Linked DNA regions of Homo sapiens. The protein of the gene in region 1 purifies or fractionates together with the protein of each later gene. This does not show direct contact. Each region holds a gene or a part of one and is shown in the gene's direction. Other genes may lie near its edges.

Evidence for each region. The genes of interacting proteins can lie anywhere in the genome.
Region 2: the proteins of CCN5 (region 1) and PITHD1 purify together in Homo sapiens (affinity purification with mass spectrometry, with the first as the bait; one large-scale study listed by BioGRID). This does not show direct contact.

The regions. Positions count from the first base shown.
Region 1 is NC_000020.11:44,721,869-44,725,368, forward strand, and holds part of CCN5 (CCN family member 5 isoform 1 precursor), read left to right. Parts: intron 1-2,869; coding exon 2,870-3,124; intron 3,125-3,500.
Region 2 is NC_000001.11:23,784,918-23,788,417, forward strand, and holds the end of PITHD1 (PITH domain-containing protein 1), read left to right. Parts: intron 1-757; coding exon 758-862; intron 863-1,397; coding exon 1,398-1,506; intron 1,507-2,357; coding exon 2,358-2,459; 3' UTR 2,460-3,315; downstream 3,316-3,500. UniProt on the Homo sapiens protein: Promotes megakaryocyte differentiation by up-regulating RUNX1 expression.

The DNA.
Region 1 (3,500 bases):
CCAAGGTCACACAGCTCATAAGCGGCAGAGCTGAGATTTGAACTCAGGGAGCTGGCTCCACAAGCTCCATTGCTCAACTGCCTGACATGCAGCAGTTGATTAGTACATAGGCTGTGATTGTTAATAACTGTATTAAGGGATTTTTCTTATTCCATCTTAATTCAGACTTCAAACACCTGCAGGCCAAAGGCGTACTTGGGTCCCTGGTCCTTCCTGCAACTTCCCACCTTGGTCTGTCAACATGATGGGTGCTCAACAGTGTTTAATGATTTAAACTGAATTTAGAGGCCGGGAACTGGTGAACCCCAAAGAGTCCAGCTAAGACATCACAAAGGCTCAGTCTAGGGCTTTGCAGGGAACATACTGCCAAAAACCTCTCCCATCACTTACTCGTTGAACGCTCTTCTCTAAGGGCCAACTCTGAGCTGTGAGATGTGCTGCAGATTCACCATCGTGATAACAGCGCATCCAATGCCGGGATCCTGATCTTCCGCCCCCCAGAACGGCCTCCCCAGTCTGTTGAGAGCACCTCCATCCTTCTCATGGCTCAGACTCAAGACCTGGGAGTCGTTCTAGAGGTCTCTCTATCTCTCTCTCTTTTTTTTTTTTTTTTTTTTGAGATGGAGTCTCACTCTTTCACCCAGGCTGGTGTGCAGTGGCAGGATCTCAGCTCACTGTAACCCCATCTCTTGCGTTCAAGCGATTCTCACGCCTCAGCCTCCCAAGTAGCTGGGATTACAGACACATACCACCATGCCTCGCTAATTTTTGTATTTTAGTATTTCAGTAGAGACGGGGTTTCACCATGTTGGCCAGGCTGGTCTGGAACTCCTGACCTCAAGTGATCCACCCGCCTCGGCCTCCCTAAGTGCTGGGATTATAGGTATGAGCCACCACAGCCGGTCTAGACATCTCTCTTTTCTCACCTCCCACATACCACCCACCAGCAAATTCATCGTGTATTTCCAGCATCCGACACTCCCATCCCTTCTGGTCTGAGCCCCGTCATCATTGGCCTGGATTTTGCAGTAGCCCCATAATCATCTCCCTCCTTCTGTCGTTGCCCCTGGTCTATTCACAACACAGCAGTCAGAGAGCTCCTGGGAAGTCATAAGCCAGATCACCTCCCTCCTCTGCCCCAAGCCTTCTGGTGGCTTCCCATCTCAGAGGAAAAGCCAAAGTCCCCACAGTGGCCTACAAGGCCCCAACAGGATCCTGTTCATGCTTCCTCTCTGACCTCCTCTCCTCCTGCTCTCTGCTCCAGCCACATTGGCCCCTTGCTGTTCCTTAAATACCCCAGGCACACTCGTGCCTCAGGGCCTTTGCACTGGCTGTTCCCTCTACCAGCATTATTTCTCAGCAAGGCCTTCCCTGCTGGAGGATTAGATGAGCTAGGGGACTTACAGCATTTTGCCCCAAGCCTGGCACATAGCAGATGCTACGTGGAAGCATAACCCTCTCCTGTTTATTGAGCATCTGCTATGTGCCAGGCTTGGGGCAAAATGCTGTAAGTCCCCTAGCTCATCTAATCCCCCAGCAGCCCTGTGAGCCGGGTACCAAGGCTCAGAGAGGCAAAATAACTTGCCCCAGGCCCCACAAGTGGGAGCCAGAGTTGGAACCTAAGTATGTGTGGTTTTGGTTCTGAAACCCCTGTGTGTGTACAGACCTACTGGAAGGTTTTCTCAGAAGATCTGGGAGAACTTGTTTGCTAATGAGTCCTTTCCCCAGACGTAGCTCAGTGGCCACCCAGGTCTCACACACACGCTGTTTCCCGTCTGCACTTCCTGAGCAGCTCACACGCTTCACCAGCGCTCTTACTTCATTCTGTCTTGGAGATGATGCCCTCACACCCGTCCCCCTTTCCCAAGCCCATGAGTCCCTCAAGGCAGGAACTGTCCTCTTTCTGTCTGGGAGCACAGTGGTTGGCACACAGGCGGGAAACAGTAAATATCTCTGGAATGATAAGGAGTAGGGCTATTTTATCAGGGTCTCTCATGTGCCAAGGCTTATGCCAGCTATTCACTGAAGGGGCATTCCTACAGTACTGTGTGTCGCACCTAGGCTCTGAGCCCACCGGAGGGTGCAGAGACGCACACTGGCCGCCCCAGCCCTCAAGGAGTTCATGTCCAGTGGAGGAAGTGGCAATAACACCCATATCTTGAGGGCTTCATTGAAAGAGTGTTCCCTGAGCACCTAGGCCATGCCTAGCACTGTGTGCTAGAGGGTACGGACATGTCATCCCATGGAACCTGAAGTTACGATTACTGAGCTCATCATTGCTGTAGTTCAGGCCACTCAGAGAAGTTAAGTAACTTACTCAAAGACACACAGCCAGCAAGTTAAGCCCTGACCTGACAGTGATGACAGCACAAGTGGACAACGACTTTGTTGCATGAAATCTCAGCGTGTATAGAATACTTAAACTTTATTAATATATAGTAACTATACTAATGATAATAACAGAGTAGCTAGGACCTATGGAAGGTCTCTTTTATGTTGTGATCATTACGCCTATCATTCCGAGTAGTCTCTACCACCCTGGAAAATAAGTACCATTATATCCCAGCTTGCAAATGTGGAAACTGAGGCAAGAAGAAGTGAAATCACTTGGCCCAGGTTCACAGCTAAGAAAGGGCAGAGTTTGGGGGGTCAATCCAGGCCTGTCTTCTTGCAATCCCTGTGCCGGGATCCAGGGTGCCCCAGCAGGCTGGTGGAGGGCTGGGGAGAGGTGCATATCCTGGGCTGGAGCCCTGGGCAGGGCCCAGCTACTGTGAGGCAGCTGCCTCAGGCAGCGGGATCTGGGCAGCTCTGCAGAGAAGGCTGTGCCGCTTTGCGGGTCACCGATGGGGGTGCGGTTTTTCCTCCGCAGTGGCAGAGGACGACAGCAGCTGTGAGGTGAACGGCCGCCTGTATCGGGAAGGGGAGACCTTCCAGCCCCACTGCAGCATCCGCTGCCGCTGCGAGGACGGCGGCTTCACCTGCGTGCCGCTGTGCAGCGAGGATGTGCGGCTGCCCAGCTGGGACTGCCCCCACCCCAGGAGGGTCGAGGTCCTGGGCAAGTGCTGCCCTGAGTGGGTGTGCGGCCAAGGAGGGGGACTGGGGACCCAGCCCCTTCCAGCCCAAGGTGAGCGCAGCGGTGGTCCAGGTCAGGGCAGGACTGCCTGGGGGCGCCAAGGGCCACCTAGGGGGTGGGGTGGGGGGCGGCTTCCTGGGTACCAGGACCCAGGGACACATCAGAAGCTGGGAGGGGCGGAGGCTGAGGAGGGAGATAAGAAAGAGGAGTGGAGGGCCGGGCGCTGTGGTTCACCCTTGTAATCCCAGTACGTTGGGAGGCCAAGACGGGCGGATCACCTGAGGTTAGGAATTCGAAACCAGCCTGGCTGACATAGGAAAACCCCGTCTCTACTAAAAATTCAAAAATTAGCCTAGCATGGTGGCGGGCATCTGTAGTCCCAGCTACTTGGGAGGCTGAGGCAGGAGAATCGCTTGAACCCGGGAGG
Region 2 (3,500 bases), on another chromosome or scaffold:
ACAAAAAAATGCTTGAGCATTGGGTTACCTGATCTTTTATCTCTTAACTGTGTGTAATATGTTTCTGCCAAAGTATGTATTTTTCCCATGAGTAAGCTGTTTTATTTAATAACATCCTCAGTTTGGTCTGAATGTGCTGAGTTGTTTATTTTCTCCATGCATTTGCTGCATGTGACCTAGTTTGAGCCGTCTCTTTGTGTATTGCTTCTCATGTGATATTAACCCACTCAAAGATGCCATGGGGTTATGTTGCAGATCTCAGCTCTTTTTTTGTTGGATTAAAGATATTTGTAGGCTAGACGCGGTGGCTCATGCCTGTAATTCCAGCACTTTCGGAGACCGACGTAGGCGGATCACCTGAGGTTGGGAGTTAGAGACCAGCATTGCCAACATGGTGAAACCCTGTCTTTACTAAAAGTACCAAAATTTGCCGGGCATGGTGGCGTACGCCTGTAGTCCCAGCTACTCAGGAGGCTGAGGCATGAGAGTCACTTGAACCTGGGAGGTGGAGGTTGCAGTGAGCTGAGATTGTACCATTGCACTCCAGCCTGGGTGACACAGTGAGACTCTGTCTCAAAAAAAAAAAAAAAAAAGATATTTGGAGATACTTGTATAAAATGTCATTTCTAAAATATGACCCCCAAATTCAGTCTCCTATTGATAGAACCAAAGCCATTTAAGCAGTCAGTAGAAAATTTTGAAAACCTGAAACGTGATAATGCACATTTCTTGACTTTTCTTTCCTTTCCTTTCTCAGGTACAAGAATATTCCACAGATGTCCTTTGATGATACAGAAAGGGAGCCAGATCAGACCTTTAGTCTGAACCGGGATCTTACAGGAGAATTAGAGTATGCTACAAAGTAAGCACTGGGCCTGTCTTCCATTCTCTATGGCTTCTTATAGGGCTTGCCATTTATTTTTGGCCAGTCTCCTGCTCTCTTAGCATTGGAAATGAGTTAAAACAGTGGAGGAGACTTGATCTTTGGCTTGGTCAGTTTTTGGCAGAGATTCAGTGCAAGCCACAGACTTGTTAACTTGCAAGCAATTGGCAGATCTGAATGAACTCCTAGGGTGGTTTTAGGAAAGATGTGTCTCCCATTAGTTTAGGTTAACACTAAATGTGCTTTAGAATCCCTGCTGGGTTATGCAGCATTTCTCATTCCTGTTCCTTGAGGGCAGGAGCAGTGTTTATCCCTACTGCCTTGGACAGGATCTGGCAGGTGCTCAGTAAATGGTCATTGAATTAATTGCCTGTCCAAAGGAGAAGGAAGAACTCAGGAGCTCTGACTTTGCCTGGCTTTTACAAGCTGGAGCTGAATTGTTGTTTCACATGGTGGTGAGATACTCATTGAACTATAATTCATACCTTCTTTCCCTATTCCTGTCATCCTCTAGAATTTCTCGTTTTTCAAATGTCTATCATCTCTCAATTCATATTTCAAAAAACTTCGGAGCAGATACGACAAAGGTCTTTTATATTGGCCTGAGAGGAGAGTGGACTGAGGTAAGATGGGGTTGGAAAGGTTTTCCCCTCATGTCTACATATCTGCACACTGTGGTGATGGGAGCTTCCAGGGAAGGGAAAAGAGCAAGTGTCATAATTACTCCCAGTTTATTATTTTTCTTGGTTTTATCAGTATAAACTTTTCGTCTCATTTGAGAAACTACAGGTATTTTTAAGGGGGTTGAAACTGTTATTTTTATATAAATAATATATATAATATATATATATATATCTCAGCTCACTGCGACCTCCGCCTCCCAGGTTCAAGTGATTCTCCTGCCTCAGCCCCCCAAGTAGCTGGGATTACAGGTGCCCACTCCCACGCCTGGCTAATTTTTTTGTATTTTTAGTAGAGACAGGGTTTCACCATGTTGGCCAGGCTGGTCTCGAACTCCTGACCTCAGGTGATCTGCCCATCTCAGCCTCCCAAAATGTTGGGATTACAGGTGTGAGCCACCTTGCCCAGCCTGAAATTGTCATTTATATTAATTCACAGTTTTCTACTTTCAAATGCTTTCATTGAGTATTTTTGATAATCTTTTCTATTCATGAACCAGGGATAAGATAATACCATAGACAAGTTCCTATTCTCATGGTACCCCCATTATAGTAGGGAGACTGAATCTTCAAAGTTACAGGGTGAATCAATGATAATGATCTTTGCAGCTTTCTGGAGTTAAAAAGTATCAAAATTGGGAGATATTAGATGATGACATCTAAGTATTAAAATAAGGAGATATTAAATGATGACTCCTAGAAATGAACCTGAATAAGGACTACCGCAATGTGTGTGGTGTGGGAAAGGACAGTTCTTTTAATGGCTGGCTGACCCAGCCTCAATTTTCTTGCAGCTTCGCCGACACGAGGTGACCATCTGCAATTACGAAGCATCTGCCAACCCAGCAGACCATAGGGTCCATCAGGTTACCCCACAGACACACTTTATTTCCTAAGGGCTGGCCAAGGCTCCCATAGAGGCGCTGTGTCAGTGAAGATGTACGACTACCTGTTGGGAAGGACAAAGGGATGAGGCTCCAGAGAGAGTTGGCTGCCACAGCCTCTGCCAAGCTTTGTCTTTGGGGCTTGCTGCAGAAACCTGGCCTACGGAAGATACGACACCACTGGGAGGGTTGTGTAGGTGCCAGGGGACCATCGTGGTTCTCTAGGGCGCTGTGGAAATTGGGTCTTGGGCTGGGTGGCATCTGGCAGTCATGGGTAACACTTGCTTTTCCAGTTAATGTGGCCATGTGATTCCAAGTGTCATGTTGCTTTGTGGCAAGATTGTTGTGTGACTTGTTTTTTTGTTTTTGTTTTTGTTTTTTTAAAGGAAACTATTTGTGGGCTATAGGAAACTTTCTGATGCCTCCGGATTGTGTTAGTAGTAGCCATCAGGAGGGTCTCCAACTAAAACACTTGTTCCTGCTTGCTCCTTTCCCCTCTCATTGTTCAGCATTCTTGTCAAGTTGCCCAGCTTGGAGTTGTCTGTCACGCACATGTGTCCTGTGGTTATAGCTAGAAGGACAGGAGTCTCCTGCTGATGCGTGATAGCTTAAGCTTGGGGAGAAGGTCTTTTCCACTGCCTAGCTAAGCAGTCTGGGGAGAGCATGGGGATCATTTCTATGTGTGTGGGTAATCTGGTCAGTAAGATTGAGACTTAGTTAAGATTCCCCTTGGAAATTCCTTAATGTTTATTAGCTTCTAACTAGTGTTGTAAGTCCGATGCCAGAATTTGGAGATTTGAGTTCTTCTTTTCATGGCTTTTATTCACTGTGACTAATAAGCTTCCTAATAAATCCTTGCCAGACTTAATGTTTGTATTTTCTTTTGAGTTCTTGATAGCCACTGATGCAACTTTCATTTCATGGGGAACTGTACTGAACTTTGAAATTTTTTGTTGTTGTTTTGGACTAGGTAGATTATAGGAAGTGCCACAATTAAATCAAGACTGGAGCCGGGCGCGGTGGCTCACGCCTGTAATCCCAGCACTTTGGGAG